Linked DNA regions of Homo sapiens: regions 2, 3 and 4 are each linked to region 1. The links come from fine-mapping of genetic effects on gene expression. A gene starts in region 1. Each other region holds a variant in brackets. All regions are shown on one strand. Distances are between the middles of the regions. Region 1 holds the start of DKK3 (dickkopf Wnt signaling pathway inhibitor 3). Region 2 overlaps DKK3 (dickkopf Wnt signaling pathway inhibitor 3). Region 3 overlaps DKK3 (dickkopf Wnt signaling pathway inhibitor 3). Region 4 overlaps LINC02547 (long intergenic non-protein coding RNA 2547).

Region 1 (8,103 bases):
TGAGGAAACTTACAATCACAGCAGAAGGTGAAGCAAACACGTCCTTCTTCAAGTGGCAGCAGCAAGGAGAAGTGCAGAGCAAAGGAAGGAAAAATCACCTTATAAAAACATCAGATCTTGTGAGACTTATTCACTACCATGAGAACAACATGGGAAAGACCTGCCCTAATGATTCAATTAGCTCCCACTGGGTCCCTCTCATGGCACATGGGGATTATGGGAGCTACAATTCAAGATGAGATTTGGGTGGGGACACAGCCAAACCATATCAAACTAATACACATTCCCACCGATACTGTATAAGTGTTCCCTTTTCTTCACATCCTTGCCAACATGTTATTTTTTGACTTTTTAATAATAGCCATTCTGACTGGTATGAGATACTATTTCATTGTGGATTTAATTTGCATTTTTCTGATGAATTTAGTGATACTGAGCATATTTTCATATATTTGTTGGCCACTTGTATGTCTTCTTTTGAGAAGTGTCTATTCATGTCTTTTGCCCACTTTTTAATGGGGTTATTTGGAGTTTTTTTTATTTGTTCAAGTTCCTTATAGATTCTGGATATTAGTCATTTGTCAGATGCAGTTTGGAAATATTTTCTCTCATTCTGTATATAGACAACAGGTTGTCTATATACCCTGTTGATTGTTTCTTTTGCTGTGCAGAAGCTTTTTAGTTTAATTAAGTCCCATTTGTCTATTTTTGTTATTGTTGCATTTGGTTTTGAAGTCGTAGTCATAAATTCTTTGCCTAGACCAATGTCCAGAACAGTTTCTCTTAGGTTTTCTTCTAGTATTTTTATAGTTTCAAAGCTTACATTTAAGTCTTAATCCATCTTGAGTTAATTTTTATATATGGTAAGATGTAGGGGATCTATTGTTATTCTTCTGCATATGCCTAGCCAGTTTTCCCAGAATCCTTTCCCCATTGTTAATTTTTGTTGACTTTGTTGAAAATCAGTTGGCTATAGGTGTGTGTCTTCATTTATGGGTTCTTTATTCATTCCATTGATCTATGTGTTTATTTTTGTACCAGTACCATGCTGTTTTGGTTACCATAGGCTTGTAGTATTGTTTGAAGTCAGATAATGTGATACCTCTACTCCAGCCTGGTGTGGATACCCCTCCTCACCTCACAGTAAAGGGGGCCACTGCTGGGCCTTGGGGAGGTCAGCATTTTGCCAAGAACAGATATAAGAAAAAAGTCTACTTGACTACAAGAGGTTTTTTTGAGTTGTTTTTGTTTTGTTTTGTTTGGAGGATGGGATGGTGCCTTCTGCTTTTATTTACCAATTTATTCACAAAATATTTTAAATATACCAAAAATAATAAAAAGAACCAGCCACACCCATATATCCTGATGTAAGTAATCATCATGGTTGATTAAACAGATGCGAATATTTGGACACTTCTGTTTCAGAATTCCTCCATGCTGGTACACTCCCTTTCTTGAAGAAATAAAATGTTATCAATACAACTGAAGACATCCTCCATCCCTTCCTTGCCTCCCACCTCAGAGGCAGCCTGCACATTTCTATATTTTTATTATATGTGAGAATCCATAAACAATGAATGCTATTGTTCTGTTTTTCTAAGATATGCACAAATCGTATCCCATATATGTCTTTTCGCAAATTGCCTTTTCCACCTCATATTATATTTTTGAGAGTTGGTGATGTTGCTGCCTATAAATATTGTTCATTATTCTACCTGCTGTACAGTATTCTATTATTGTAGAAGCCCCGGTCTATCCATTCTCCTGCTGGAAAACACCAGCAAGTAGTTTCCACATTTTTTGCCATTATAGATACTGCCTCAGTAAACATCTTTATACATGTCTTCTTTTGCACATGGTCATGAGTTTCTGGAGGGTGGACAGCTAATTGTGAAATTGCTGTGTGGCCACTTTCTAGGCAATTTTCAGCCAGTTATATCCGCTTTGCTGCCATTTCCTCAACCATGAAATGGGTCCCCAGTTTATGACTTGGGAGCTCCCTCATAGAGAAAATGTGAGAACCTAAAATTTTAAATAATAATTCCAGAATGTGTTTCCAATGACTTAAAAGAAAAAATCAACTGTTCCCAGTGGATACAGAGCTTAGCCAGTGACACAATGGGAATTGTGGAAATGTAGAATGTTCTCTACTCTACCTATGATTGTCCTGGATGGCTCTGCACTCTCTGCCTGCTCTGTGCCCCTCACCTCACAATGGCCATCCAGACTGGCCCTTTCTCCAACAAGTCCCCGACCCCACTGGGCTCCCCAGTCTGAGTTCTTTGGAGCTGACACTCCTTGTCCAGATCTGGTTTGGGCTCATCTCTACAGCTGGCCCCAGGGCTTTTCCTTCGAGCCCATGAATGTCTCAGGCTGGTGCGCGGACTGGCATGGAGCTGGGCAGGAAGACCACTTATATTTGAGACCTGTAGATTTTCTTACCGTTTCTTCTCTCTCCCTTTCTTTCTTTCTTTCTTTCTTTCTTTCTTTCTTTCTTTCTTTCTTTCTTTCTTTCTTTCTTTCTTTTCTTTCTTTCTCTCTTTCTCTTTCTCTCTTTCTTTCCTTCTTTTCTTTCCTTTCTTTTTTTCGTTTGTAGTTTAACCTAATAATTGAACTACTGATAAATTATTACATTTGGGAATACAAAATGTAGACTCCACACAAGAAAACAAGCGTCCCTTTGCCTGACACTTGGGGCAGTTCGATATAGAGAGATTTTTAGGTTGACTCTGAAAGTCAAGACCTCCAGACCGCATGGTAGAAGGTGTAAGGCAGAAGACAATCTCAGCTGGGGAAATTCCTGGTCTTTAAGCCAGCAACATGAAGGACTGGAAGAGCATGATGTGCTCTGTAAACCCGCAGCACTGCATTTCCTAGCTCGGCCCCACAATATGCCCCCACAGCACCCTCCAGTTCGGCATTAGTTTCTTCCTAATGTCCACTCTGCCCGAAGTGACAAGCGGGGGCATGTGGAGACTCAGCTCCAGGTTCCTGGACGGGCTCAGCCACCCCCAGAAAGCTAATGAATGCTCAACCAGGGCTTCCAGATGCCCAGGGGACAGAGCAGGAGATGCCGGGGAATGGGGCTTTCCTTGCAGTTCAGGAGGGCCCTGCCCCAGGCCCAGAAGTAGAAGGGAAAGCGGCTGTTTTGGCGGTAAACAGTAATGTGGGGAGTGCTGCAGAGAAAGGCAGTCTTGGGGTTTCAAGCTGGAGAGCAGTCAGCTACACTCAGGACCTCTGGCCATCCCTGCCTTCACCTGCTGTTTGGCCTGATCGTCTAACTTCTCTGATTCTCCACTACCCACTCCTTATTACGTTTTTGAGACTTGTCAAAGTTTTATATTAGGGCTAACTGGGACGCATACAAATCTGGTAACTTCGCCAGGGCGGGAAGTTAGGAAGGAGCAGAGCTGGCTGCAGGTGTCTGGTCCTGACCACTCCTCTATGCCACCCTTGAGGAGCTTGCTGACTTTCTCATGACGTTCTCCCATTCCAGGAGCTGCAAGTGCGTTATCCTGGCTGGAGCACGGTGTCAATCACGGCAGACTAAGGCCAGCGGTGATGGCTTGAATGCCAGGCTGGGGGCTGGGATTTTTCCTGAGGATTTCACAGGACAGAGGTTGGCTTGGAAAGACCAAGGTGGGACTGAGGAACATTCCCCCTACCCCCAACCTCGGTGGGCTGTTGCAAGCCTGGAGGCCAGAGAAGACGGGCCTGGGATGCCGCGGGCGCAGGGGCAGGCAGTGAAGGAGATGGCTGCCTTCGGTAGAGCTGGTCGCTGAGGCAGAAGAGGAGGGCGTGGGGCGTGGGGCGTGAGGTGGCCGGCGCCCCGGCTGGCCAATGGCCGGGCTGCGGCCCCTCCGCGGGGCGGGGTGGGCCTGGTGGGCGGGCGGGGCTCGGGGCGGGGGCGGAGAGGGAGCCTGGTGGGCGGGCGGGGCGCGTCTTGCGGGCTCCCTCGGGTACCGGCGCTGCCGCACCCCGCCGCGCTCCCGCACCCGCGGCCCGCCCACCGCGCCGCTCCCGCATCTGCACCCGCAGCCCGGCGGCCTCCCGGCGGGAGCGAGCAGATCCAGTCCGGCCCGCAGCGCAACTCGGTCCAGTCGGGGTGGGTGAGGGGCGGCGGCGGGGGAGGGGACGACTCTGCTGAGCTCAGCCTCTCTTGGTGGATGTGGGGCGGGGCGCTCGAGTAGGACCCGACGCCAAGGGGAGGGGGCTGACCTGTGCTTGGTCCACCCCAGGTAGGGGCTGAGAGAGGCTTGAGGTGGAAGTGGGGGTCGGGCACTCTGACCTGGTCGAGGAGGGGCTAGGGTTTGAACCGGGGACAGAGTCTAGGTGAGCTGGGGCTTGGGAGCTATTAGCGTAGAGGATCCGGGTTCGGTTGCTCTGGCGAGGGCTCCAGCATCACAGGTGAGGAGCAGAGCTCAGCTTGTGCTCGAGGATGGGGGTGCGGGGTCCTGGGGCGATCGGGGCTCGGGCTGGAGCGGGTGGGGTCGCGTCTTTTCGGGTGTAGGGGAGCTGCGTTTTCAGGGGCCTCGGTTTCCTCCCGTCTCCGGGCGGGTGCGGGAAAGAGGGGCGCCAGGGGCGGGCGGCGGGGCGGAACGGGGCGGGGCGGCGGGCCCAGCGAGGGGGGTGGTCCGCGCGCCTCTGATCGCGTTCCGGGACACACAGGCGGCGGCTGCGGGCGCAGAGCGGAGATGCAGCGGCTTGGGGCCACCCTGCTGTGCCTGCTGCTGGCGGCGGCGGTCCCCACGGCCCCCGCGCCCGCTCCGACGGCGACCTCGGCTCCAGTCAAGCCCGGCCCGGCTCTCAGCTACCCGCAGGAGGAGGCCACCCTCAATGAGATGTTCCGCGAGGTTGAGGAACTGATGGAGGACACGCAGCACAAATTGCGCAGCGCGGTGGAAGAGGTGGGTGCGCCCTGGCGGCGCGGGGCTCTGAGAAGCGCCAGACTGGGGGCAGCGAAGTCTGGGAAGGCATGGAAGAGCGCTGGCCAGGGACCTCGGGTCCCGCGCAGGGCCTGGGAAGGGCCGACAGCAGATGCGGAGTGACCTGGAGGCAGCGCACGGTGATCCCTACTCCCGCCTCGTTTTGCCTCCTTGCCAAAAAGTCTGGATCTGAGCCTGTCCACCGAGAGGCTCTGCACTGGACCCTCCCTAGGTAGCTGGGGCCACCACCTGCCTGCAGTTGGCGTCAGGCATGCCGTTGGCCTTCCCTATTGTCAGCAGAGGTTTGCAGGGCCCCTGGTATTCCAGCACTGTGGTTTCACAGAAACCCGGGACAAGCTCCAGGCATCGCCAAGTTCTAGCTTGTCCGTTATGCTTTGAGCTTGTTAGGATGCCATGCAGGGACAAAGAGGCAAAGAGCCCTGAGCTTTGCTGGCAGTCTGTCTGGGCTGTCTTGCTTCTCACGCAATGTGGGGGCAGAGAGGGAAGATGGAAATCCTAAATCTCAGCACTGTATGAGTGGCGGATGAGGATGTGAGAGGCAATACCCCCTCCACCCAACGGTGCTTCGCAGTTGTCCTGGGCTCAGGTCCTCCTCTGCCACTCAGTAGCAGGGTGACATTGGGCAAATCACTTAATATCCTGCACCTCAGTTTCCTGTGAAAACTAAATGTCATATGTGTGGGCACCTGGCAAATAATAGGTGCGCAGTATTTAGCAACTATTATCAGATACCACGTACCTTAGCAAAGCTTTGCCTAGCTTCTGCCCTCCATCACCTCCAGGTCTAAACACTGTGGGTGGCATCTTGTTCTGTCCTCTGTGATGGTCACCCACGCATGCCCAGGGCTACCTGGGCAGGAGATGTCACTGGCCCAGCCCTCTCTGTCCAGGTGCGGGGAGCTGTCCCTGGTGCCTGGGGTGGGTAGACGAGGGCGCTGTTGGGCCCAATCTGTCTGTAGCCTGTGTCTATAGAGAGGAGCCAGCCGTCCTAGTGAAGGAGGCAGCAGGAAACCAATGTCCAGGCTGGTTGGCCCCTGGTCTGGCTTCACATCCCTGCTGTCTCCAGCTTGGTATCCCCCTTGGGCAAAGCCTTAACTGCTGGCCCTTGTCTCCAGGGGGAAGTTGCTTTCTCCCCGCAGCCCTTTGTAGTTTGGGGCTATTTCCCCTCCCACTCCACAACAGTTAGCCTGTGGAGTTTGCAGTGAAGGGGACACTGGCTTGGGAGGCAGTGAAATGGGCAGCTGTCCTTGAATATCCACTGGACAGGCCCAGATCCCAAGACCCATGATCTTTCTGTTTCCTGTGATTGCAAAACAATCATGACATGGAGCAATTAAAGGGTGAAGGGATTCAGATAGGCCCCAATGTCTCTTAACTCTGAAGCTTCAAATTAAGTGGAGTTTGCGATGCCTCTGGTTCTAGGGCAGGCCATCTGCTTTCCTTATCCAGGTTCTAGGACTTTCCCTCCTGCACACAGATTCCCGGTAAGACTGACTAAGTCACCTCTATGTTTTTGTGCCCACCACTGTTCAGAAAGTCTGCAGCGTGGTCCTCTGACGTTAGCTTCTGCTGAGGGAGGAGAGAGAGCAGCAAGGGCCTCTTCAGTCTCTTCTTGAGCAGAGCAGTGTGGGGCCCTGCAGGACCTAGTGACGGGGTCTTCTCCATGGGCGTTATCCAGACTGGATTTTGCCAAGACCCCAGCTTTCCTCCCTCTAGATGTGGCTCTGTGTAGGTTGGGGGGTTGAAGTTTGCCACCAGAGGAGATGTGGGCTGTCACTTCTACCCCACTCTTTCCCAGAGGTGTCCTCGCTGGCAGTGGGTACAGGATGAGAGAGGTTGAACACCATGGCAGGAGAAGAGGCAGTGGGGACTGATCTTCCCTCATCCAGTCCCTGCTCTGCCACTTACTGGCAGTGGCGTTCCGAGTCTGAAGTGGAGAAATGTCCACCTCTTAGGGTAAGGTGAGAATTAAATGAGATGCTGCAAGTAAAGCAAATCAGTGAGTTGGGCAGCTATCCCTGAATATCCACTGGTCAGGTCAAGAGCCCAAGATCCATGATCTTTGTTTCCTGTGATTGTGAAACTATCATGACATGGAACAATTAAAGGGTGAAGGGAGTCATATAGGCCCCAATGTCTCTTAATTCTGCAGCTTCACATTAAATTGAGCTTGTGATGCCTGTGGTTCTAGGGCAGGCCATCCGCTGACTGCCTAAAATGGGGTTAAGTAAAACACGTGTAATACAGGTAGCTTCATTGTGAGGTGGCTGTAAGGATGACATGATGGTTGGTTGTAAATAAGTAACAGGTATCATTATCATCATATTACTAGTAGCAGTATGAATGATAACAAAACACCACCAGTGTCTGATAGATTCTCAATAGAATCTATCTTTTAAAATATCTTAAACCATTAAAAATTAATCTTAAAATACTAAAAGTATCTTTTAGATATCTTCAAAAATAGAATACAATAGATTGTTTATAGACTGTGGTTATTAGTATTAACTTTTTATGGAGACTGCCAGAATGCCCCTTAAATCTCATAGACACAGGATAATTGGTATTTAGTCATTGTTCAGGGGAAAAATCAAAAAGGACCTGGGCCAGATGCATTATTTGTTTACATAGTTGCATCATGAATCTCCTTTCAAGTAACTTCCTGGCATTTTCAATGTTCCAGCTGAATCAAGCTGTTGAAGTTTCTTAAGGGGAAGGACAAAGCAGCTCTACTTGTACGGTCATTATTGGAAGAAGCATATCTTCAAATGGCTTCAATCTGGGATATTCCTACTTTCCTGTGTTACTATTCTATATGCTACCAATCAATGTATTCTGAAGATATAACCACTCTGTTTCTCTTCCCCTCATGGCCAGCTCTGTAACTCACTCATTTTAGAATGTTCTTACTGCCTCACCTATTTCTAGTATAAGTGCCATTTTTAATAGCATTCACATTCCTCCTCTACGAAACAGCTCCTTTTGCTTCAGACTTAAGTTTCTCTTGCTAGTGGCAATAATAGTTGCGGTTGAAATTTCCATTGTAAACTATACTTTTAGTTCATGGTGCCATTTAAGAACCGTTAGCTCATTCTGTTGAAATAACCAGTGGCTGAGCTGGGGGGAAAAGTTTTATAAAAAGACTATCTGCTCAGCC
Region 2 (8,103 bases), 22 kb after region 1:
AGAGATCAAATTTCAACATGAGATTTAAAGAGGACAAATATCCAAACTATATCTGACACTAATTGATCTCTTGTTCCAGGCCATCTTTTCTAGGCGGTGGCCTTGAAAAACAGAGCTAGCTCTCCCTCCTTGGCAGAGGGCAGGTTTGCTTGCAGTCCATTATCAAAGGTTTGGGTTCTCTGAGCTTGAGATCCCTTAGGTGTGATGTAAACCCAATGCATGTGCAGCATCCGTCTGGACCCCTCCATGGGGCAGTGTGGAACCTGCAGGCAAGGAGAACTGATACAGACAAGAGGCTTATGCTGTTTCCGTGTTGCTGAAATAAAGTCCTTTGTCTCTGACCCAGAAGTCTCATGTCTTCTGCTAGCAGCCATGAAACCGTGGCAGGAACATGTATCATCTTGCAAGTAGAATAGAATCTTAGACCCTTCACACTTCTTGACAGGCTCCCTGGAAGAGGTGGCAGTTGAGCTGTATTTTGAATGTTGTCTAGGAATTCTCAGTTGTGGGGAAAAAGGGTATTCGTTGAACAAGTATTTCTTGTTCAAAGTCAAGGAGGCATGTGGAAATAAGAATATGTTGGAGGAACGCTAAACAATTTAGAATGCCAGAGCTGGAGATGTGCGTGGGGGAGCAGCAAGTAAAGCTGGGGGAGAGGCAGGGATGAGATCAGGCAGGCCTTTGAGAGCCATGCCAAGGAGTTAGGAATACATGCTGAGTTAGGAACATATCCTGCATCTGCAGTGCTTTACCATGTCCTGTACTGTATACTGTAATGAGACTTCATGCAATCCCTAGAGGAAAGAGCCAGGAAGATGTGGTTTGGAAGACAGACATTCGTGGCGATGGAGCTTTGCTTAATCCTGCTGAAGCTGAAGGCTTGAGCCCCTTTGGGCTGCAAAGCCTGTACCCTGCAAAAAGCCTGGCTTCTGGCCTTGAAATCTGGAAACCGTTACTTAGAAATGGAGCACTTTGCTTTTGCTTGGTGCCAGTAGACAGGACAGATAAGTGACAGTAATTGAACTTGAACTCTCATTAGGTTGATGGTGTCGGCTGCAGAACAAGCTGATTTCTGTGGTCTCTGAGTAGCCTGGGCATGTCAGGGGCCCAACAGCTCCTCCATGCAGGTGTGTGGCTGTCCACTGCTCTCAGGACCTGGGGATTCTTCCAGACAAGCCTGGATAACTTTCACCATAGGGTCTTTGTATCCTGGCTGCCAAATTTGTGGCCCTGTCCTTCTTTACCTGTTGGCATCATTCCAAAAAACTCATTGAGTCCATTTTGTTTTGTTTTTAAAATAACATCAAGGGCTACAACATGTCCCAGTATTCCCTTATTTAGTCAGGCGCTGTGCCAGGCATCTGACTTGCATTCCTTCACACGATCCACATGACAATGATACAAGGCAGACACCCAGTTGACCCCATTTTACAGATGAAGTAACTGAGGCTCAGAGAAAATTATAAAACAGAACTTGTAGGTGGCTGAGCCAGTACTAAAAAAGAGAAATAAAATGAAGCACTTAGGTCTTGTGGATTCCAAAACTTCCAAGACTCATGTTCTTAATGCAACATACAAAAAATTGTGATAAAATGTATATAATATAAAATATCATCTTAACAATGTTGACACATATAATTCAGCAGGGTTAATTATACTGGAGAAAAGAATTCTCCAGAATTCTTCTCATCTTGCAAATCAGAGATGCTATACCCATTAAACAATGCCCCCCTCCTGCAATCCCCTGGCAACCTCCATTCTTCTTTCTGTCTGTATGATTCTGACCACTCAAGGTACCTCATATGAGTGGAATCATACTGTATTTGTATTTTTGTGACTGGTGAATTTCTCTTAGTGTAATGTCCTCAGGGTTCATCCATGCTGTAGCAGGTATCAGAGTCTCATTCCTTTTTAAGGCTGAATGATAATACATGGTTTGTGTATATACATAGATATATTCATATATTCATACCATGTTTTGTTTCTCCATTCATTTGTCAATGCACCCTTGGGTTGCTTCCACCTTTTGGCTATTGTGAATAATGCTGCTATGAACACAGGTATGCAAATATCTCTTTGATATTCTTTCATATCAAATGCTTTCACTTCTTTTGGATATATACCCAGAAGTGGAATTGCTAGATCATAAGGTCATTCTATTTTTAATGTTCTGAGGAAACACCATACTGTTTTCCATAGTGGCTGCGCCATTTTGCATTCCCACCAGCAGGGCACAAGGTAGAAGTTTTTTTTTCAACCTTTCAGTCTTCATGACTGTAGGCACTAGAGGACATAAGTGCCCAATGTAAGCTGAAGGACTGTCTCAAAATTCCTGGCCCCTGCTGTCCTTGGATAAGGCAGTGCGTTCCCCAACTCTGTTTCCAGCGGTTGCCTCTGCAGTGTGGCAGCCATAGTCTCAGGGAGTGTTTTTAAAGCTTAACTGATGCCACTGACCTGAGTTTCTCACCCCTCACCCTGGTCTGTAGCCAACATGCTGAAAACTTTCCCTAGGCCTGGGCGTATGCAGGCTCAGGCTGCATCGTGGAGATTGTGGGGATCCAGAGATGTGATTTCCTTGACCATTCAGGAATTAACACCCACTCCACACCCTCCTTTATGAGCCCCACCCTTACCCCTCCATGGTGTCCTCAAAGACTCCCCAGAGGCATGAGGGGCCTCCCACTTCCCTGTAAAGGGGCTCCAGACTCCCAAGAGGTCCTATGGGGGACTCAGGCCTCCAAGGAGGTTTTGTGGTGATGATGGTTGTTTATCAATTCCCACCTGTGGTAGCGAGGGCTTCCCGGGAGGTAGGCCAGGGGACAGTGCCAACAGAGGCCCCAGTCACACCGTCTCCTCTTCCAGGGTCAGAGCCCGGAGCAGTGGAAGGGAAGTGGGTCAGGATGGGAAGCGGGGAATGCAGAAGGACATGTTTAATGCTCCCAGGGAATTCACAGTCATGCCCCCGAATCTAATAAATGAGCTGGTCTCTCCAATCAGGCAGGAAACCTCTACTCTTGGTCACATCCCCAGCAGACTATGGGAAAAATGATGGATGGAGATTGAGTCATCTAAATGTTTGTTCAGATCTCATTGCTCTGTCTACT[G/T]TCAGTTTCATTTTTCACCTCCACCTCCTGGAAGAGAAAGAATAAACAAGATATTTGGGTACGTTTTAGGGGAGCATAGTGGTAGAATTTGGAATCCAAACTGCTGCAAGTTGAAATCCCTGCTTCTGGGGAAACTTCCCTCATGGCTCTGAGCATTGGTTGCTGCTCTGTGAAAAGAGGATTTAATGACTGCCCGAGGAGGGTATTTTACAAGTAGGAGGCCATGTCTGGAGAATGGTGTTTAATAGATGCTGAATAAGTGTAAATTCTCCTTTCTGACCTAATTTCCTGGACCCCTTGTGGCAGGAAGCAGTAGTTTACTGAATTTGAGTGTGATGAATCAGTAAATATGTTTATTTTGTTGTAAGGTTGCTGTTGCTTTGAAAGAGTAACTGAGAAGGCTTCTGAAAGATGATGGTGGCTAAGGTGCTAGACCAAACAGATGAAAAAGCTATTTGTGTAAAGACAGGCCTCATGCCAAAGATAAAGTAAAACAGTATATCACTGAGTCACACAATTATAAATGGTAGAATTCACAGGGTCCCCTGAACTCCTCTGAACCAGGAAGGAACACATGTGGCCCATCCACTGCCATACCCCACCTCCGGGCACATGGCAGACATTACTAATCAATTGCAGAGTTGTTTCCTTATGAGCCCAGATAGCCTCAGCACTTGAGGCAGCACAGCACTTCCAAGCAGCAACTGACAGTTGGGAAAGGACTATCCTTGAAACCTGTGTTCCACCCCTGCTTCAGACCAAACCTCCTGTTTTACAGATGAGAAATCAGAGATGGGAGGGATGTAGTTTTCTCCAAATCATGCAGCCATCAGATCTGGAAACTTATTTCCAGTTCAGTTCAGTTTTTAGTGCATGGTGGACATGGAATTTCCTTTTTCAGGAAGCAGGGTCTTGGTGCCCTTGTTTTTATCATATCTCAAAAAATTAATAATTGAGAGGATGGGCCACCTAATGCTGAGAAAGATGGTGAAGACCAGCTGGGAAAGGGTGTTCTCAGGCCCAGGGAAAAAATTTAGAAGTTCATAAAGGATTGTCTGAAGACTGAACTCTGGGGAGGCAGGGATTTCACCTGTTGTGTGCCACCTCCGTATCCCTGTGTCTGTGCTGGACATGGATAGGGGTTGAGTAGTTGAATACATACTTAGTAGATGAAAGCTGTGTGACCTAGTTGCAAATTGGGGAATAGAAACGGAAGTAAAATTCCTTGAAGGTAAGATTCTGTAAAGAGCTGTAAGTATGTAAATGAGTCTGATTTGTTTAAAAAATGAACCTCTGTTTTTCTTGCCTTTGTTCATTCATCTACATTGTTGGACACCTACTGTTTGCTGGGCTGTATACCCAGTGTTTTACGTGTTTTCTAATTCTTAAAACACTATGAAGTAGATATAATATTATTTTATAGATGAGGGCACTGGAGTTTAAAGAAGTTAAATTCCGCAAGTCATGGCAGACGGTAAAATGGTAGAACTGGAATATGAACCCAGTTGTAAATTTTGGCCATTTCAATTAAAAGATATATTTCTGATAAAGTCATGGTGGTTTGCAGCCATAATGTTGAGTTGTTTTGATCCCCAGCCTTCCATTCCCGGGTTACAGCTTGTGTCATTAACATCAAGAGTCATTGAGCCCCTCCCCCTTCCAAAGGCCTCAGATGGAAAACCAACATCACAAAAGGACAACTGTATGGTTTTCCTCTCCCAGGGATGGCAGAGCTCCTTGGGCTCAGGGGAGAAGATATCAGTGGAAGATGGTTAGGAAACTGTGGAATCTCACACCTACTTTCTTTTGTTCTCACCACTGATGGGGTGTCAGACTTGCTGCTGCTGAAAAGGAACATTCTAAACCAGTAGAGGGGCATTTTAAGTGGGTGGCATGCTCCCGTGTCTGAAGAGGTTGGCCATTGACACATTTCAGTGATGCGATGTGGAAAATACAGCCACAGGGAAAACAGCCTGAATTTTCCATAGTCTCATAATTCAGGGCCTCCCAGAAAGGAGGCAGGAACAAAAGAGTAGTGGCTAGGATAGAAAAACACCCTGGCTTGAAGATGGCGGAGGGGCCTGCCCTCCAGGCCAGGGGTACCCGGGTGGCTGGGGTGGGCAGAGGCCAGCAGATTCCATCCTTCTCATGCCTGGCAAGCAGAACTTAGGCTCAGCCCCACGAGCAGGAGATTCCTAGTAGCCTTTGCTTTTTCCATTGTTTCCAGGGTCCTCCCTTTTTGATTAAATCTATGGGGACCTCCTTCCCCAGAAAGAACATACATCCTGTAGCAGAAAGTTCAAATCAAAGGCCAGAAGTCATACTCAGTGCTTGCCTTGTGCAGAGCTGCTCTCCTCTCCCCGCATCCCCATGGTTTTGCTGGGATTTGGAAGGTGAGAGGAAGGAAAGAGAACAAATATTCATTAAGCACATACACAGATGCTGTGTGACCATTTCATATGAGCTACTTTCCTTCACTCTTACCAAACCCACCTACAACACAGTGTACTAGCCCTGAGTTAAAGATAAGGAGTGAAAAGCTCAGAGTGACTTGCCAAGGTCACCCAGCTAGTCAGTGGCAGAGTTGGGATTTACAATTATTTCCAAATAAGTCTGTCTTACTCCAAAGCCTAGACTCCTTCTAGTGCACTGAACACTGCCTTGCAAAATGATCAGATGGTGGGAAGGTCACTAATAGTAATGGAATGTCTGGTACATGCCATGAAATGTGGTCATACTTATCACCCTTAATCTTTCTGACAACATAACTGGTTAGGTTTTATCATGCCCATTTTACAGATGAGGAAACTGCAACCCAATGAAGTTAAATGACTTACCCAGGCTTGCCCAGCAAGAACTGAGGAAGAGAGCTTGGGGAGCTCACTGTCGGGGGAGCGGGTCATTTTAGAGCCTTTTGTCTGAGTCTTGGCTTGGAGAGCCGGGGCAACCCTGGTGGTGTGGCCGGGCTCCTTGGTGCTGGAGCACAAAGGAATCTCCTAGCCCCAGCCGGAAGCACCAAGACCATTATGAGGATGGGCGGCTCCAGGGTTTCTGGGGCAGGAAACTTGGGTGTGCCCAGACCACCTTCCCTAGACCATCTGCACATGGCCTCCTCCTTGGAGCTGGAGTTCCACGTTTCTTGCCATCCCACAAAAGTGAAGCAAAATTTGACGTGGCCTCTTGTGAGCAAAATGAGGTCAAAGCATATGTTTTTCCACCACTGAAACATTAAAGTTTTTCCCAGGCTCATTAGCATAAACGATTCAACTTGAAAAGTTAAAAAATTCTGGGAGACCCCTTTCCGTCCTCACTGTGGAAGAACTTTGTGGGTAGTGTTGGGGGCAAAAGAAAGAATAATTCCTCAGGGCAGGGAAGAGACTGGAAGGCAGGAGATTGGACGCTCCTTAGAGGCTCAGCAGGGAATCCCAGGCGCCGTCCCCCACCCAGCAGCCCTGCCAGGGGGCTGGGGAAGTGACTTTTTTTCTGCCCAGGGGAAAACAAACTGGTTTCTGTTTTGTTCTGCTTTAGATTTTCTTCACTTTTTCTTTTTTTTTTTTTTTTTAAAGGAAATTGAGCAAATTCTTTGAATTGAATTTATAAAGAGGGCAATGGATTAGGGACACTGAAGCAGTGGTTGTTCAGCTTGGGCATACAGCAGAATTATTTTCTTAATCTGGATACAACTCATGGGAAAAGTAATGCGTTTTTATTTTCACTTACTTTTAAATTAAATTGAGCACTTCCTTTAATCTGAAATGTGGACAACAAACCACAATATTTGCAGTACTTCGTACCAATAGCAATCACAAATATTTTTATTTTCTCTTACTGTTGTTATACATATCTTAAAATAGCATTTATGCTCAGCACTTAGAGATGAAGAGAGTTGTCAGAGTTGCCGATAGGTCTTGCTATCCAGTGTGTTCATAAGAAGCCCATAAAATACTGTCTCTCAAAATATTTTGATAACTCGACTTCAACACAACCATTTTTCTTTGTAATCCTGTATGTTTACCTTTATTCATCTAACTCTGTTATACTGAGAACAGGAGAACAGGCTTCATCTAGGTGTTAAAGGGGTCCCTAGTACAAAAAAAGTTAAGACCCCTTATTTTAAAAAGGCCAGTGTCCACACTGGGACCTCCTAGTCACTCCTCGTCACAGAGACAGACATGGCCTAGTGGGCAGCAGGGAGGCTGTAGAAGGATCTGTCTGTTGCCTTCATTGGAGTGACATCCCCACCATTGTAGATAAGACTTAACCTTGAGGTTCCTCGAATCATGCCAGCTTCCCCATTCAGGTGGTTTGAATCCTAAAGACTATGAAGAGCCATTTTGAAGAAACTGAAGGTTGAGAAGATTCTGATTACCAGCATTGTTGTATAGGCATTGGGTCGGGGGTTGGTCTGGAAAATGCTGGGCCTGGGCTCTGTCTCAGATGTAGGAGTGCCCAGCTCATCCTGGGGCATCTCCCAGATGGACCATTTGACAGCAGCGTAGCCCAGATAGGGGCCTGCACTGACTCCTGCTGCCCACAACTGCAGCCAAGGCTGATCTTCGGTGGAGAAGGCCTCTGTCCTGTGGCTGCAGCTTGGCAGCCTGAACTGCTGCGTGAAGCATCCTCTGACTCCCTTCTCCCTCTGCAGCCTGTCTTACCCATGGCATAGCTGGAGGATGCAGACATGACATCCAGTGGAGACTTGTGATATGTCAGGAGGGATTACAGGTCACAGCCCCTGGAACCTTGTTCTTCTTGAGAGATTTCACCTGCCCCACCGAAGGCTCCAGCCCTAAGCCTTTGGGATGGACAGAGAAAATACAAAATATGATGCAGTTTTTGTCACCTCCCAGTTCTCTCAAGTCCATGTGCCTAGGGACTGTGTCTCAGAAGCACTGTCTCCTGAGGAACCAGCTCTTGCATAGGTGCTATCTCCAAGTGCTGAGAGTGTGGAGGGACTTGGCACATTTATTACTTTCTTCCCAAGGCAAAGGAAAACCAA
Region 3 (8,103 bases), 43 kb after region 1:
TGCCTCTAATTTCCCCTTCCTATGTAATATAACATACCCACAGGTTCCGGGGAATAGGATGTGAACATCTTTGGGGGTGCTGTTATTCCACCCACCATGGAGACATTCAACCTTTCTAATTTCTTCCATTCTAAGTGAAAAAAATGGTGTTATGCTCTTTTAAGTTGCATTTCTTGATTGATTTCATTGGTGAGGTTGAACGCCTTTCTATTTGAAGAGGCAAATTTCTGTTATTCTAAGTTGTCCGTTCATACCCTTTGTCTCCTTTGCCACTGGGTTGCTCTTTCTCTCTCTCTTTTTCCAATTGAATTACGAATTTCTTAAGGGCAGAGGCCTCCTCACATTCACCTTTGTGTCCCCAGTCCCTCAAAATATGGCTGGTTCAGAGAAGGGATTCTGTGCCTGTTGGCCCTTCCTTTCTCCCAAATGTCGTCCCTCCCACTCCATTTTCTTGCCATTCTGCTTTGGAAAGAACGTCGGGAGGCTTCCGGCTGAGCAGCCTGAGTTGTGTCTGTGCACAAGAGCGTGTGCTGGGCTGAGACAAAGCGCGTCTGTGATTTGTTCCCAGCCCTGTTGGGACTTCTCTGGCCGCTGGGGCTCTGGCTCAGACTCAGTCCCTTCACTTGGGCGGCCGTTCACCCTACTCGGAGCCTCGGTTTTCTTATCCGTAAAAACAGCGATGGTATCATGCCTGACATTTAAGGGGTGCTGGGAAAGTAACTGAAACAAAAGCATCAATGCTTGGCAAGGGAGCACCCTGGTTGCTGGGCCGCCAGCACTTGCAGTGTTGATCAGAGCAGCAGAGCCCCTGGAAGGGGACTGGAGGCAGCTGCCGGAGGTCCAGGCCTGCCCGGCCAGGCTCTTCCAGGTGGGGCTCCACACCTGCATTCAGGATGGGGAGGATGCTCTGGGTCAGAGGGGAGAGCCGGTCCTTCCCTTCCTCAAGACCCTTCCAGAAGGTCTGCTGGGCCCCAGAATACCAGGCCTCAGGAGGGTCCTTCTCACCACTGGCTGCTACATGTGGAGCCCTGAACCCCCTTGGCTCAAGGGCTGGTGGTGGAAAGAGACCCTCCACCCTGAACTAGTCACATTATCTTGGAGGGACCTCTCTGCCTCCATTTCCCGGCTGGCAATATAGAGAAGGCAGTCCCTACCTGCCTCCTGCTGGGAGGAGTCACTGAACAAGATCAGGGCCGTCAAGCCTGATACCTCAAAAGGGCGATCAATGGCCATTCCTGTCATCATGTTCCCTCCTCCCCTGCCCTCCTTCCCCTGCTGTAAAGCTGCCGGTTCGTAGGCCTGAGCCTGACAGCAGGTCCAGGAGCTGAAGCAGCCCTGCTTCTGCCAGTGACCGGCGACCATGGCAGGTCACAGTGCCCTCGGCCATGGCTCCCTGTTCTGTGACTCAGGCCTTGGGGTGGACAGATTCCCCTCACTCCTTCTCTCCCTGTTTCTCCAGCCAGGCAGAGCTGGCAGCCATGAGGAGACAGCACCTGGGCTGGGAGGGCTGGAGTCCAGCCACCCTCCTCTAATTCATTTCCAAGCTGGCAGCTGCCTTTCCCTCTTGCAGGGACCCTAGACCCAGGACCCTGAGGGCGCTCTCTGTGGGCAGGGCTGTGGCTTTCTGGCAGGGTCCCTAGCGATGCCCCCTCTGCTGCCTCCCAGTCTTCACAGTCAGCAGAGCCCTTGGGGCCTGTCTTCCAGCCTTTCCTGTGCAGTCGGGCGGGCCTGGACCTCATTAGCACTTTTTATTAAATCCATATGTTCTGTGTGGAAGACCAGCCCTGAGTCCCTGTGCTCCCGCCCTGGGTGTGGGTGGGGGAGAACTGTGCACAGATGGCGATTGTGTGAATTTGGTGTGGGATCCTCCAGGCTCTGGGCTGCCAAGCCTCCTAGGCATGGAGATGCTGAAGGGCAGTGCAGCCAGGCAGGGATCAGGAGCGACTAGAGTCTGGAGGCCTTTCCTGACCCTGCTGAGCCTGTGGGGTCAAGAATGGGGAATGGAAGCGGGCCTGGCCCTTCCTGGGCACTGTGGGCCTGCTGCTCTGCTCTCCATTGACACATCTGCTCCCTGTGCCCTTCCCCAGGAGTGCATCATCGACGAGGACTGTGGGCCCAGCATGTACTGCCAGTTTGCCAGCTTCCAGTACACCTGCCAGCCATGCCGGGGCCAGAGGATGGTGAGTATGCCAGGGCCTCTGGGGCTGTGGCACCAGGGTCTCAGGCACCTGGGGGAGAAAGCCAGGGGCCCCAGCGTTCTCAGCTGGGCTTCCCAGAAGAGCCTCACCATGATGGGGAGGACCCAAGAGGGCTCCCCAGAGGGCTGACTCCTGGAGGACAAGGAACTCATTCCAGTTTGGGATGACAGGAAGCCATCTGCAGACCCAGGGCCACTCCCATCCACCCCATGTCCTCTGGTCATGTTGTTTGTGTCATTGATGGTAGAGAAGGGGAGGGACGGCCAGGCACCGTGGCTACACCTGTAATCCCAGCACTTTGGGGAGACCAAGGCAGAAGGATCTATTGAGGCCGGGAGTTCGAGAAGGGGAGGGAAGGGAGAGGAGGTGTCCCTACACCTGTTGCTTCCCCTGGGGATGACCCATCCTAATAGACAAACAGAGACATTCCGGCAGCCCCCAGGCAGGGAGAGCGGCAGCTGCTCTCCTTCTGGACCTGCACCCCACCCACCAGATCTTTCTCCAATCTGCCAATAAGAGAGGGCAGAGGGACAGGGCAAGAAGAGGCCAGGGCACTGCCCCAGTGCAGGTTAGATTGGGAAATGTGGAGCCAGGGCAAAGGAGACTCTTCACCCAACAGGCATTTTGGACGAAGCCACATGGACTCACAGACTTTTCATAGTCATTTTTCCTTATTCAGACAATAACACAGCATGCTAATAAGCTTGGAAAGTCAAGCAGTTCTTATTACCTTACCCGACTGTCTGTGGTGAGGCCACTGCTGTTGCACCTCGCAGCCAACCCCACTCGGTACCGTCACTGGGCACAGCCGTGGGGACCTCACTTTGCTCTCTAACTGCCATGCCCTGTGTGGCTGCAGGACCCTGGCACCCACAGGCCATCCTCATCTTGGGCTGGCTTGGGCCTTAGTTTAATCGGCTCATCATTGGGCCTTGCCTCTTTGGGCCTGGACCTAGGGACCTAAGGAAAAAGGGAACAGCACAAGTCTGTGGGGACCACAAAGACCCCCTGCTGTTCTTTGCAAAATCTTAAGCTGTGGAGAAAGACTCAGATCCATGAGTCCTCCCGGTGCCATTTTTCCAGCGTTCTGACCCCCATGTCTCGCCAGCCAAGCTCCCACCTCTGTCCCACTGACTTTCACTGAAATCTCAGCCTGGTCTGCCTGTCTCTACAATGGGAGGATGCAGGTTGGCCTATCTGTGGTATCTTCAGGCTGGGCTCTCAGCAGGCCCCCAGTCCCTAAGCCGCTGGCTCTAGGCTCTTTCCACCTGTCTGCAGCTCTGCACCCGGGACAGTGAGTGCTGTGGAGACCAGCTGTGTGTCTGGGGTCACTGCACCAAAATGGCCACCAGGGGCAGCAATGGGACCATCTGTGACAACCAGAGGGACTGCCAGCCGGGGCTGTGCTGTGCCTTCCAGAGAGGTGAGTGGCCTCCCCTCAGATGCAGGAAAAACCCTGTCCCAAGCTCCACCACACTGGACCTCCTGGAGCCACGTCCATGCCAACCACATGGTTTCGCGTCCCACCTCTTGGATAGGCTCCCAAATGCTCATCAGTGTGTGCTGCACTCCCACAGCCTCTGCCCGGAGTGGGAAGACCACCTCTTTTTTTTCCC[C/G]TGTTGATGCTCAGAAAAGTTAAATGACTTCAGGATGCAAAAGCCCAGTCTGGAATGGGGTGGGACTAGCAGCCCCCTCCCTCCCACCACTCCTTATTTCCCAGGTTCCTCTACCTGTGAATCACCCGCTTCCACTCCCATCTTCCGTCCTGCCTCTCCCAGGTGAGGTCTGCTCAGGCTCTCTCCGCCCCCACTAGGGTTTTGAAAAATTCTCATTTGCCGCCTCCCCAGCTCTGCATCCCCAGCCCACTAGTCCTCCCTGTACCTGCCGCCTCCGTGATCTTCCTAAAGGGCTGCTTTTTGGGTGTTGCTCCCCTGGGACCTGCAGCAGCTCCTGTTGTCTCCCACGATGTTCAGACTCCTTAGGCTGTCTTGTGAGGCCTCATGCAGCTCCAACTTACTTGCCCTCCTTTTCTCTCCACTACTTCTTGGCCTATTTGGGAATTTCACCGGCCCTGACATTTTCCACTGAGCTCAACCCCAGGCCTTTGCTGGTGCTGTCCCTGTGCCTGAATGCCTTTGCCTCCCTCTTAATTTCTCCAGACTTTCTGGCCCTCAAAATCCAGCAGAAGCCCACCTCTTCCAGGCAGTCCTCCCTGCTTCAGCCCTACCAATCATTCCCTCCTGAGCCCAGGCTGCTATTCTTGTTTCCTGTCATTCCGTATCTTCAAAACTAGCCTGCACTTTGGGGTTGAGGGTGGGAGGTGGGAGGTTATGCTCCATTTCTTTGCCCCTCCCTTTGGAGCCCTTCTACCCTACACGGGGCACACAGGGGTGACTCTGGGCTGGTTCCAGGCCTGCTGTTCCCTGTGTGCACACCCCTGCCCGTGGAGGGCGAGCTTTGCCATGACCCCGCCAGCCGGCTTCTGGACCTCATCACCTGGGAGCTAGAGCCTGATGGAGCCTTGGACCGATGCCCTTGTGCCAGTGGCCTCCTCTGCCAGCCCCACAGGTGAGGCCCCCTAACCCTCACTCTCAGGGAGCCAAGGGCTGAGGAGGTGCCATCCAGCAGGGGCGTAGGAGCAGGAGCAGGTTTTCCCTGGGGGAGGTGTAGATTCCCTTTAGGATTGGTTTGAGAGGTCGTTGGGTCATGCAGATGGAAGGGTCCAATCAGCAGTCGGTTCTAGGGGTCTGGAGCCCAGGCTGCCCAGGAGGCACAGATCTGGGGCTCATCTAGCTGGTGGCTGAAGCTTCATGAGTGGATGGTCCATGGAGAGGACATGGAGGGAGAAAAGCCTGGGCTCCCTCCCCAGACCTGTCACAATGACAGATAAGCAGAGAAAAAGGAGCTGGCAGAGAGGCCACGGGGAGGCCAGGAGTGGCCACCAAGGTGGAGGGTGCAGCCCACACTGTCTGAGGCTGCTGAGACTCCATGAGGCATGAGGCTCAAGCCTGGCCAGCTTCTCAGGGCACATCTCCCTGTCCTCCCCGCAGCCTCTACTCAGTCTTCTCTCCCAACAGAATCCAGGGCTGCTGGGCAGACAGGCAGAACTCCCATTCCCCACGGCTCTGTGCAGTGGCTCACACCTGTAATCCCAGAGCTTTGGGAGGCCAATGCAGGAGGATTGCTTGAGGCCAAGAGTTCAAGACCAGCCTGGGCAACATAGGGAGATCCCGTCTCTACCAAACACATTAATTTTTTTTAAAAAAAGGAATTCTTCCTCCCTATTCCCACAGAGGTCCATGGCTCCCTGCATGTGGCTAGACTACACCCCAGAGTCAGGCTGACTCCTGCCTGGAGGCCCGAATGGGCCACAGTCTTTGAGGGGCTGTGGTGCTGCTACATAGCACTCAGGTCCTGCCCCTGGGCTGCGGGGCCTGAGAGTCACAGGAGGTCAGGCCTGCGCTGGAGGAGGGGAAGCTGCCCCCCACCAGCACATTCTCCCAAAGTGAGCCTCCCTCAGCCATCATTTTAAGATAGATGTTGACGGGAAGTGAAGTGTCTCTGTTGAAGAGACAGGAGAGGAGGGGGCATGAAGGTGAGGCTGGGAGCCCCACAGAGTCAGGGCGCCTTAGCTTTCGGCCTGGGCAGGCTCCCACGTTTAGAGCCTGGCTTTGTCCCATCTCTCCCCAGCCACAGCCTGGTGTATGTGTGCAAGCCGACCTTCGTGGGGAGCCGTGACCAAGATGGGGAGATCCTGCTGCCCAGAGAGGTCCCCGATGAGTATGAAGTTGGCAGCTTCATGGAGGAGGTGCGCCAGGAGCTGGAGGACCTGGAGAGGAGCCTGACTGAAGAGATGGCGCTGAGGGAGCCTGCGGCTGCCGCCGCTGCACTGCTGGGAGGGGAAGAGATTTAGATCTGGACCAGGCTGTGGGTAGATGTGCAATAGAAATAGCTAATTTATTTCCCCAGGTGTGTGCTTTAGGCGTGGGCTGACCAGGCTTCTTCCTACATCTTCTTCCCAGTAAGTTTCCCCTCTGGCTTGACAGCATGAGGTGTTGTGCATTTGTTCAGCTCCCCCAGGCTGTTCTCCAGGCTTCACAGTCTGGTGCTTGGGAGAGTCAGGCAGGGTTAAACTGCAGGAGCAGTTTGCCACCCCTGTCCAGATTATTGGCTGCTTTGCCTCTACCAGTTGGCAGACAGCCGTTTGTTCTACATGGCTTTGATAATTGTTTGAGGGGAGGAGATGGAAACAATGTGGAGTCTCCCTCTGATTGGTTTTGGGGAAATGTGGAGAAGAGTGCCCTGCTTTGCAAACATCAACCTGGCAAAAATGCAACAAATGAATTTTCCACGCAGTTCTTTCCATGGGCATAGGTAAGCTGTGCCTTCAGCTGTTGCAGATGAAATGTTCTGTTCACCCTGCATTACATGTGTTTATTCATCCAGCAGTGTTGCTCAGCTCCTACCTCTGTGCCAGGGCAGCATTTTCATATCCAAGATCAATTCCCTCTCTCAGCACAGCCTGGGGAGGGGGTCATTGTTCTCCTCGTCCATCAGGGATCTCAGAGGCTCAGAGACTGCAAGCTGCTTGCCCAAGTCACACAGCTAGTGAAGACCAGAGCAGTTTCATCTGGTTGTGACTCTAAGCTCAGTGCTCTCTCCACTACCCCACACCAGCCTTGGTGCCACCAAAAGTGCTCCCCAAAAGGAAGGAGAATGGGATTTTTCTTTTGAGGCATGCACATCTGGAATTAAGGTCAAACTAATTCTCACATCCCTCTAAAAGTAAACTACTGTTAGGAACAGCAGTGTTCTCACAGTGTGGGGCAGCCGTCCTTCTAATGAAGACAATGATATTGACACTGTCCCTCTTTGGCAGTTGCATTAGTAACTTTGAAAGGTATATGACTGAGCGTAGCATACAGGTTAACCTGCAGAAACAGTACTTAGGTAATTGTAGGGCGAGGATTATAAATGAAATTTGCAAAATCACTTAGCAGCAACTGAAGACAATTATCAACCACGTGGAGAAAATCAAACCGAGCAGGGCTGTGTGAAACATGGTTGTAATATGCGACTGCGAACACTGAACTCTACGCCACTCCACAAATGATGTTTTCAGGTGTCATGGACTGTTGCCACCATGTATTCATCCAGAGTTCTTAAAGTTTAAAGTTGCACATGATTGTATAAGCATGCTTTCTTTGAGTTTTAAATTATGTATAAACATAAGTTGCATTTAGAAATCAAGCATAAATCACTTCAACTGCTCTTCTGTAGTTCTTGGATTTCTTTTCCCTTTTGACTTTGAATAAATGTAAAATCCTTTCAGCCAGAAAAAGTAAAATAGAAACAACCTGTATTAAAAATCTTCCATAGAAGCAAATTTGCCACCCAACTGAAGCACACCTCTTTCAGCATCAAAATATTTTAGAAATCTTAACTATTTTTGGATGGGAATTTGTCTTAAAGAGTGTAAATGCTTCACGGCCTTCTGAAAGGACAAATGGAATATGTATGACTCTTTTTTTAGGGGAGCCTTCTTTAATCAAATGCAGTTCTGGGCCATAAGACAGTAAGATCCTCAAGGACCATAATATTAGAGCTACTATATTGAAGTCAGCTGCGTGGCAAGTGCCAGATTAGGCAGTCTACCTATATTCATTCATTTAATCTTCACTGAACTCCATGAGCATTTTCTTCATTTCACAGATGAACAAATGGAGGTGCAAAGAGATTGACAGAGTAGAAGTCAGACAAAAACAGCATCTAGTACAGTATGTCCAGGTTATAGTGATTATTTTAAGATCAAATAGGGAGCTGTTTTCTATTCAATGTCAGAAACCATCAGGACCACCCTACATTCTGGTTACTCAACAGATATCTACTGAGAGCCTCCTCAGAA
Region 4 (8,103 bases), 38 kb before region 1:
ATGCCCCTAAGACCACAAGCACCAAAACCTGCAGGAAGCCCCTAAACATGGCCCCCAGTTCCCTCCAGCTCTGCAGGGAGAGTGCTGCTCAGGCAGGGAGGGGGAACTGCGCTCTCTCACTTGCATCTTAACCTTTGCAATCAAAGCCAAGAGGAGGGAAACTCTTGTGCCTGCCAGCACAGTGGGGCATCGCATTTTCTGTTCCTGCCAGCACATTTTTCTAGGTCAATGTCAGATCAGGGAAATCCAATACTGCATGTCCCAACGTTTTATTTGAAAACAGAGAAGTTGCTTTCCAAAATAAATAGCGTTTACAAGTAAAGCCTGGAGAAGCCTCTGTCAGAAATGGACTCTGGGCCCAGGCAGGATAGACGTTTCCTAGTGGCTTTGATTGATGTAAACCCAATGTCAGCCCCAGCTCCAGGCCTAAAAGGAGAGGCTGGGCTGAGGAAGAACACGTGTATATACACATACGTATTGATGTGTGCCCGTACATATGCATTTGCATGTATCCTTAAGGGTCTCTGGGTATGATTAGCATGAAGAGTAAGTTGGGGGGCTTATATGTGTGTCCTTATATGTGTTTATGTGTACAGGCATGTGAATGTGACTGTGTGTGCCTGTGTATGTGTGTGATGTGACACCCAGCCCTGTTTCTCAGACACCCAGTCCTCTTTCTAGACACCCCCTTCTTCTCCTCCTTGTACCTGTTCTTTTTCTTTTTTCTTTTTTTTTTTTTTTGACACAGAGTCTCGCACTGTCACCCAGGCTGGAGTGCAGTGACGCGATCTTGGCTCACTGCAACCTCCGCCTCCCAGGTTCAAGTGATTCTCCTCCCTCAGCCTCCCAAGTAGCTGGGATTACAGGCCCAGCTAATTTTTTGTATTTTTAGTACAGACAGGGTTTCACTGTGTTGGCCAGGCTGGTCTTGAACTCCTGACATCGTGATCTGCCCGCCTTGGCCTCTCAAAGTGCTGGGATTATAGGCGCGAGCCACCGCACCCGGCCCCTGTTCTTTTTCTTAACTGATTAAGGGGCTGGGGCTCAGATCTTGACACACTGTGACAGGCATTTCCTCTGCTCTGTTTCTTCTTGGTGCCTACCCACTGCTCCTTCCCAATTTGATGTTGACTTGTTGTGTAGACCAATGGAGTCCAGTTTTTGGTTACTGTGTTAGGACCCAGCAATTTGAGCCCAGGCTATGTTAACAGCGCTCTGTAAATGGTACCATGCACTGCCCCGGAAGGCCGCTGGTGTCACTTCTCGCTGACGTCACCCTGACTGCAGGATCTCCCTCACAGACCTCCGACTTCTGCTGTCAGTGCAATCCTCCCCAGGCCTTGCCAGTTTCCATGCTCAAGGCCCCGCCTGCCTGATGACCACCTGTCTCATTAAACTTAAGCAACTCAGCCTGGCTTCCAAGATCTGAGTATCTTCTTAGCAAATTCTCTTCTCAGGAAGTGTGTCCCCTTCCTGAGCACCTCGGCCAAGCTGCCCCATACTGTGTTAGCTCTGGCCCCTCCCTTACCCACCTCTGAGCATTTCTTTGCTCACGCTGTTCCTCTGCCCTCACACCATTCCCTGCTGCCACTTCTCTCTCATTGGCTCTGCCGGTCCAAACTCTACGCTGTTTCAAGACCAGTTCTAATCTCACCCACTTTCTCTACGAGGACTTAGAAGAGCCTCCCACCCCACACTACTTTCCCATCAGACTCTGGCTCACGGGATGACACACTGCCCTGTGTGTTGCCTAAGAATTGTTTTCAGGTTGCTTCATGGGCCTTATCTTGCCTTCTGACCTAGATTGCAATCTCCTTCTAGGCAAGAATCAAGCCCGGTGCAAGAATCAAGCCCGGTGCTGCCTTTGAACGAGATGTGGAACCCGACACAGGTCTGGACACAGTATAGCCAGGGGATGAGGGCTTGTGGGTGAGTGCACGCAGAAAGGCACACTCGGCTGGGGCGGTAAGGCCGCAAAACTGTGTCCTAGGCACTGCGTTTTGTGATTTATCTGTCTTAGCTCATCTAATAATAACTGTGGCGGCAGGGTGATATTATCCCCAGTTTAGAGATGAGAAAACAGAGATTGAAAGAGATTAAGTGACTTCTCTGAAGCCACAAAAGTAGTCCAGTTGTCTCTTGCTAACTGTGGGGGTTTGGTTGCCTGATCCCCTTGAATACCAAAGTCTGCGGATGCTCAAGTCCCGTGTCAGCCCTGCAGAGCCCTTGCATAGAGGACACTTTGCTTGTAACCAGCAAAATCAGGGGTTAATCCTAGGTGGGTCTGACTGCCTTTCTCATAACCTTGTAACAACCATATCCATGGGAGGCAGCATGCTAACAGTGAACTCTCTGAAATTCTAAAGCACACCCTACCCACAAGAGATCAGAGCAAGTTCTAGGGTGGCACTGTCCAACAGAACTTTCAATGATGGAAATGTTTATTTCTGTGCTGACATGAGAGCCACTGGCCACATGTGGCCATCGAGTACTTGAAATGTGGCTAATGAAGTAAAGAACTGGATTTTAAATTTTATTTTATCTTAATTTGTTTATTTATTTGAGACAGGGTCTTGCTCTGTCACCCAGGCTGGAGTGCAGTGGCGTGATCTTGGCTCATCGTAGCCTCAACTTCCTGGGCTCAGGTGATTCTCCCACCTCAGCCTCCCAAGTAGCTAGGACTATAGGTATGCACCACCATGCCCGGCTAAGTATTTTGGTAGAGACAGGTTTCAACAAGTTGCCCAGCCTGGTCTCAGACTCCTGGGGTCAAGAGATCTGCCCACCTCAGCCTCCCAAAGTGCTGGGATTATAGGTATGAGCTACCACCCCCCAGCCTGCTTATTTAATCTTAATTAAAACGTAAGTACTGTGGTCACATGTAGCTAGTGGCTTCCATATTGGATAGTGCTTCCCAACCACGTCCATGTCAAGTCAACATAGAAAATACTAATTACGCAATAATGAGACTGTTTGCTGCCAGAGGCAACTGGCTCAAGGGGTCCTGCCTTCCTGACCCCACCTAGCCTCCCTCAACAAATCTGTAGGCCACTTTAGGCACACTAGCTCTTCACAATGGTCAAGCTTCCTGCCAGCTCCCAGCCTCTGGGCCTGGAACACCAAAGTCATTGTGATCGTAAGAAATGCCAGCATAGGAGATGTGCAGGACCTTGTCAGTTCTTGCATGGTGTCCTTTCCTCCATTCCACACACAGTGCCTGGCCCTGGGCAGGGGCTGGGGTAAAAAGAACTCAGAGCCAGCCCTCACTAAGCACTCCCACGAGGCCATCTGATTCATATGCCCCAAACTGTTCTTTTTTGGCAGCACTTTGGCGCCCCCTCCTGGGCATCCTGCAGAGTTCAGGTGCGCATAAATTTGCCAGGAGGGGACAAGGACTTGGCCCTGGGACTGACCGCAGGGCTGTCAAAGACTTCCAGCCCCCCTGGCCAGCCAAGTGAGGGAATGCCTGCCCTTTTTCCAGGCCCAACTGGGGCAGCTCTTTTTCCTGCAGGGAAAAGGCACTTTACTGGCAGCCCTGGGGAAGAGGCAGGGGAGGCAGCTGAGTCTGGAAACGGGAGCATTCCAGAGCCCAGGCCTCTAGGCCCCTGTGCACTCTTCACACTGTGCCAACCCTGGATTTTCAGAGAGAAACCAGAGAGGATGGCTTGGCAGAGGCCCTTTTGGAGGTAACTGGGAAGCAGGAGAGGATGTGAAGTCAAGGCTGGTCTCTGAAGTGGAGGAGTTGGCCACAGGGAGAGAGGAGATAGGAAAGGACTTTGCAGTGGAGGGGGCAGCCAGGGAAAGCCCTGGAGGAGAAGGGGAGGGTGATCACCAGGGCATTAAAGCGGTCAGCGTGGCTGGAGTGGAGAGGTTGAGTGGAGATGAGGGAGGTGGTGAGGCTGCTGAGGTGAGGAGGCTGAGGTAGGAGGATC[G/A]AATGAGCCCCAGAGATCAAGGCTGCAGTGAACCGAGATCATGCCACTACACTCCCACCTGGGCACTGGAACAAGACCCTGTCTAAAAGAAAATGTGAAAACCATTCTTAGCTCTTAGGGCATACAGACACAGGTGGCAGGCAGAGTTTGGCTTGAGAGCTATAGTTCACTCACTCTCATTCTATCAGAAGGTGCCTGGATGGTGCATGGACAGGCCAACCCCTCTCCCACCCTCCAGCCTTTCCCCATCGCTTCACTTTCAAGTCTCATGCAGCCAGCCAGCCAGGTTTAAACACCACCTCCTCCAAGAGGACTTTTCTTACCTTCCCAGTCCAAGTTAGCCTCCCCCACTGTATTACTCCATTTTCACACTGCTGTAAAGAACTGCCTGAGACGGGGTAATTTATAAAGAAAAGAGGTTTAACTGACTCACAGTTCCACAGGCTTAACAGGAAGCATGACTGGGAAGCCTCATGACACTAACAATCATGGCGGAAGGCGAAGAGGAAGCAAGGACCTTCTTCACATGGTGGCAGGACAGAGAGCAAGGGAATCTACCACACGCTTTTAAACCATTAGATCTCATGAGAACTCACTATCACTAGAATGGCAAGGGGGAAAACAGCCCCCATGATCCAATCACCTCCTACCAAGTCCCTTCCTCCACACGTGGGGATTACAATTCTAGATGAGATTTGGGTGGGGACAGAGAGCCCAACCATATCACCCATCAACTTTGTGCCCCTTATAAAGTTACTGACCAGTAACTTACTGACCTCTGGGTGTGTATATGTGTGTGTGTATATATGTTTGTGTGTGTGTGTGCATGTGTGTGTATGTGCATGTGTGTGTTTGTATGTGTGTGGATATGTGTGTGTGTGTGTATTTGTGTATGTGTGTGTATTGTGTATATGTGTGTGAGCGCCTTTCCTTGCACCAGCCCTGTGCTGTGCCGTGCAGTAGCCACTAGCCACATGTGGCTATTTAGGGCTTGAAATGTGGTGAGTCCAAATTGAGATGTGCTGTGGGTGTAAAATACACACAGAATTTCAAGCAGCATAGAAAACAAGAATATAAAATATTTCATTAATTTTCCAGCTCTTAGGGAAGTTGATGAATTTTAATTACTGAATTTTATTTTAATTACATTTTAAAATGACAAGATATTGGATATATCTTATTAAATGTATTATTATTAAATTTATTTTTATGGTGTTTCTTTTTACCTTTTTTTTTTTTTTTTTTTTTGAGACAGGGTCTCACTCTGTCCCCTAGGCTGGAGTGCAGTGGCATAATCATGGCTCACTGCAGTCTTGAACTCCTGGGCTCCAGCAATCCTCCACCTCAGCCTCCTGAGTAGCTGGGACTACAGGGCACACCACCATGCCTGGCTAATTTTTATATTTTTTTGTGGAGACAGGGTCTTGTTAAGTTGCCTAGGCTAGTCTTGGACTCCTGACTCCAAATAATCTTCCCACTTCAGCCTCCCAAAGTGCTGGGATTACAGGCATGAGCCACCACACCTGTCCTTCTTATTTTTTATTTTTTTGAGACAGGGTCTCACTCCGTCACCCAGGTTGGAGTGCAGTTGTGTGATCACAGCTCACTGCAGCCTCATCTTCCTGGGCTCAAGTGATCACTACCTTAGCTTCCTGAGTAGCTGAACCTATAGGAGCGTGCCACCACACCTGGCTGATTGTTTTTTATCTTTTGTAACAACGGAATCTCCATATGTTACCTAAGCTAGTCTCCAACTCCCAGACCGAAGCGATCCTCCCATCTCAGCCTCCCAAAGTCCTGGGATTACAGGTGTGCACCATCACGCCCAGCCAGCCTGTGAGTTCTGACAGCAGCTGTGCTGGGTTCATTGTTGTCACTCCAATGTCTAGTGCACAGAGTAGGAGAGGGAGGGGACAGGCACAGGGATGTCTGAGGGCTTCCCACGCACCAGATGCTGTGTTAAGCCTCATCCATCTCGTTTTGTCCTCCCAGGAACCCTGTGCCAGGGATGGTGGCGTGGCAGCAAGGCGGAGAGTAGGAGGGCTCATTTAGGCCCCAGGCTACGGTCAGGGGTGAGGGGACAGGTAGAGTCCTCTCTGCTTTGTAGGCCTCCTGGGTTTCTAGACAAGAGGACACCACCCTCCTGCCACCACTTTGCATACTTCCTGGGTCACCGTCTTCCCAACTGGGGCTCAGCCATGGCCATTGTGAAATTTGTTCTGTCTCCTCTCAGACTCTGCCTCCCACTCCCATATCCAGACACGTTCCTGCTAGTGACAGCCACATGACCCTCCCAATAACCACACGCCCAGCCTGGCAGCCTTCCTGGGCCTCAGGAGTGTGGTAACTTTGGAGAAGGGCTTCTGACTCAGGCAGCTGAGCTTGCTGCCAGGTGGGGACTGGCTCTGGTCTCAGTGTATCTCTGGGCCCCTTCCCAATCCCAAAATGAAAGTCCCTCTTCAGGAGTGTAACCATCCAGGAACCAGCCCTCAGCTCAGCACTGGGTAGTGTCTGCTCATAAAAATGGCCACAAGGTGGCACTGTTCCCACAGCCATTCCCTTCCCCCACGGCAAGACCACGGGTCACACCTGCATCCAACAAAAATATTACAGCTTTTGGAAGAGGTTTTCCCTGGACTGGTTGGTGAATTTCATTCTCAGTCTTCAGCTGCCAAAGGTTGTTTAGACTCGGGAATTCTGCTATAAAAAATGGTCATCTCTGAGTGCACACTTAAAAGTCAAGCAGGTTATGACTCATTGTCAATCCCCCTGCAAAGGAATTCTGTCCTGAGAGGCCTCGTGCACGCCTGACACATACAAGAGGAATGCACACACGTTAAGCAGAAAGCACGTGGGTCTTCCGTGTGCAGACACGAAGGCCGGGAAGAATGGCCCTACAGGTGATCTAGCCGTGTTCTGGTTTTCTTTTTTTGTTTTAGCCTTAGGATTTTTATTTAGGAAAAACAACAAAACAAAACAGAAGCCACTGCCCTGACTATGGAGTAGCCATTCTTTTATTTTCTTACTTTGTTAATAAACTTACTTTCACTTTAAAAGAAAAAGAAAACCAAAAAGACCTCACATAGAAGCCAAATAAGTAAAATGAGGGTAAAATTTGAAAAATATATGGTGGTTCTGGTTGCAGATGTGGGGATAAAAGAATCTCTTCCCAGTGAAGAATTTTCTAGAGCAGAATTTGAAATGTATCCATCTAGTCTCACTGGCTTATTTTATAGGAGAATAAACTGAGACTCAGAGAGGAAAATGACTTGTTCAAGATCACATACTACTTTGGAATGTTTTCATTTTAAATGAAAGTCTCAAAAGGCAGGTATTTTCACTGAGAAACAAAAACAGTTTTTATTTTCTCTGACATATGTCCAGATGCTCTTCAAGTTACGGTGACCCGGGGCACAGGAAGAGTACTGCCTGACACTTCTACACAGCTCTGTTCATTTCAAATGCTTTCAGCATCTGTTGCCCTGTCTGGCCCTCACAATACCCCTTAGAGTTTGGCAGGGCAAATGGATACCCCATTTGTCTGAGGCGAGACCAAGGCACAGAGACGGAACTGGGCTTGCTTTAGGACACAAAGTGAGTGAGTGTCACTAAAAAATAAAATAAAAGACTAGCATCCAGGACTCCAGCAGCAATCCTACACAATCGTCTAGAGTTAAGTTTATGCTATGTCAGGGGGGAAACAAACAAGCAAAAAAAAACAGACGAGGCTGCTCGGTATTGGTGCTCAAGTGATGAAAAAGAAAAGTGAGGGCAGAGGCTCCCTCGTTGAGAATAGAACCCCGCTTTCTTCAGTTTTACATTTCATGATGAGGCATTACAGCTGGTATATTGTAGGATTCTGAACATTCATTGAATGAATAAATAATCATGACATGGATACATACATAAATACATTTGGCCCCTGAGACAGGTAATTAAAATTCTGCACGAGTTAACACCATTTCCATAACCCACATGGACAGAAACTCTTGACAGATGTCTTGGAGGAGAATGGCTTTCAAGGTACAGGGAGATACGTTGGTCTCTCTCTCCTCTCTTTCTGAACAGTAACCTTCGGAGAAAGGCAACCTTCAAACAGTGCTGGATTCCTGCAGCATTTTTACTGTTCAAATCTTTTGTTTCTTCCCACTTACTAAGGATTTCTGTGCAT

Evidence for each region.
Region 2: its variant is fine-mapped to the expression of DKK3 in whole blood (TOPMed, PIP above 0.99).
Region 3: its variant is fine-mapped to the expression of DKK3 in cerebellar hemisphere (GTEx, PIP above 0.99).
Region 4: its variant is fine-mapped to the expression of DKK3 in gastroesophageal junction (GTEx, PIP above 0.99).

The regions. Positions count from the first base shown.
Region 1 is chr11:12,005,174-12,013,276 of GRCh38, reverse strand. DKK3 (dickkopf Wnt signaling pathway inhibitor 3) reads left to right here and starts at 4,651. Exons shown (of 7, transcript NM_001018057.2): 1 at 4,651-4,907. The coding sequence starts at 4,695. RefSeq lists an enhancer at 5,464-6,399.
Region 2 is chr11:11,983,219-11,991,321 of GRCh38, reverse strand. The region is part of intron 3 of DKK3 (dickkopf Wnt signaling pathway inhibitor 3); the gene reads left to right. Among named protein-coding and RNA genes, the nearest start is that of DKK3, 21 kb to the left of the region's middle. The variant G/T (reference allele first, on the strand shown) is at 3,105.
Region 3 is chr11:11,962,472-11,970,574 of GRCh38, reverse strand. DKK3 (dickkopf Wnt signaling pathway inhibitor 3) reads left to right here. Exons shown (of 7, transcript NM_001018057.2): 4 at 2,088-2,180; 5 at 3,477-3,621; 6 at 4,610-4,766; 7 at 5,889-7,539. The coding sequence ends at 6,111. Among named protein-coding and RNA genes, the nearest start is that of DKK3, 42 kb to the left of the region's middle. RefSeq lists enhancers at 214-837, 838-1,461, 1,462-2,085, 2,086-2,710 and a silencer at 3,553-3,602. The variant C/G (reference allele first, on the strand shown) is at 3,815.
Region 4 is chr11:12,042,787-12,050,889 of GRCh38, reverse strand. All of the region lies in intron 1 of LINC02547 (long intergenic non-protein coding RNA 2547), which reads right to left. Among named protein-coding and RNA genes, the nearest start is that of LINC02547, 16 kb to the right of the region's middle. The variant G/A (reference allele first, on the strand shown) is at 3,933.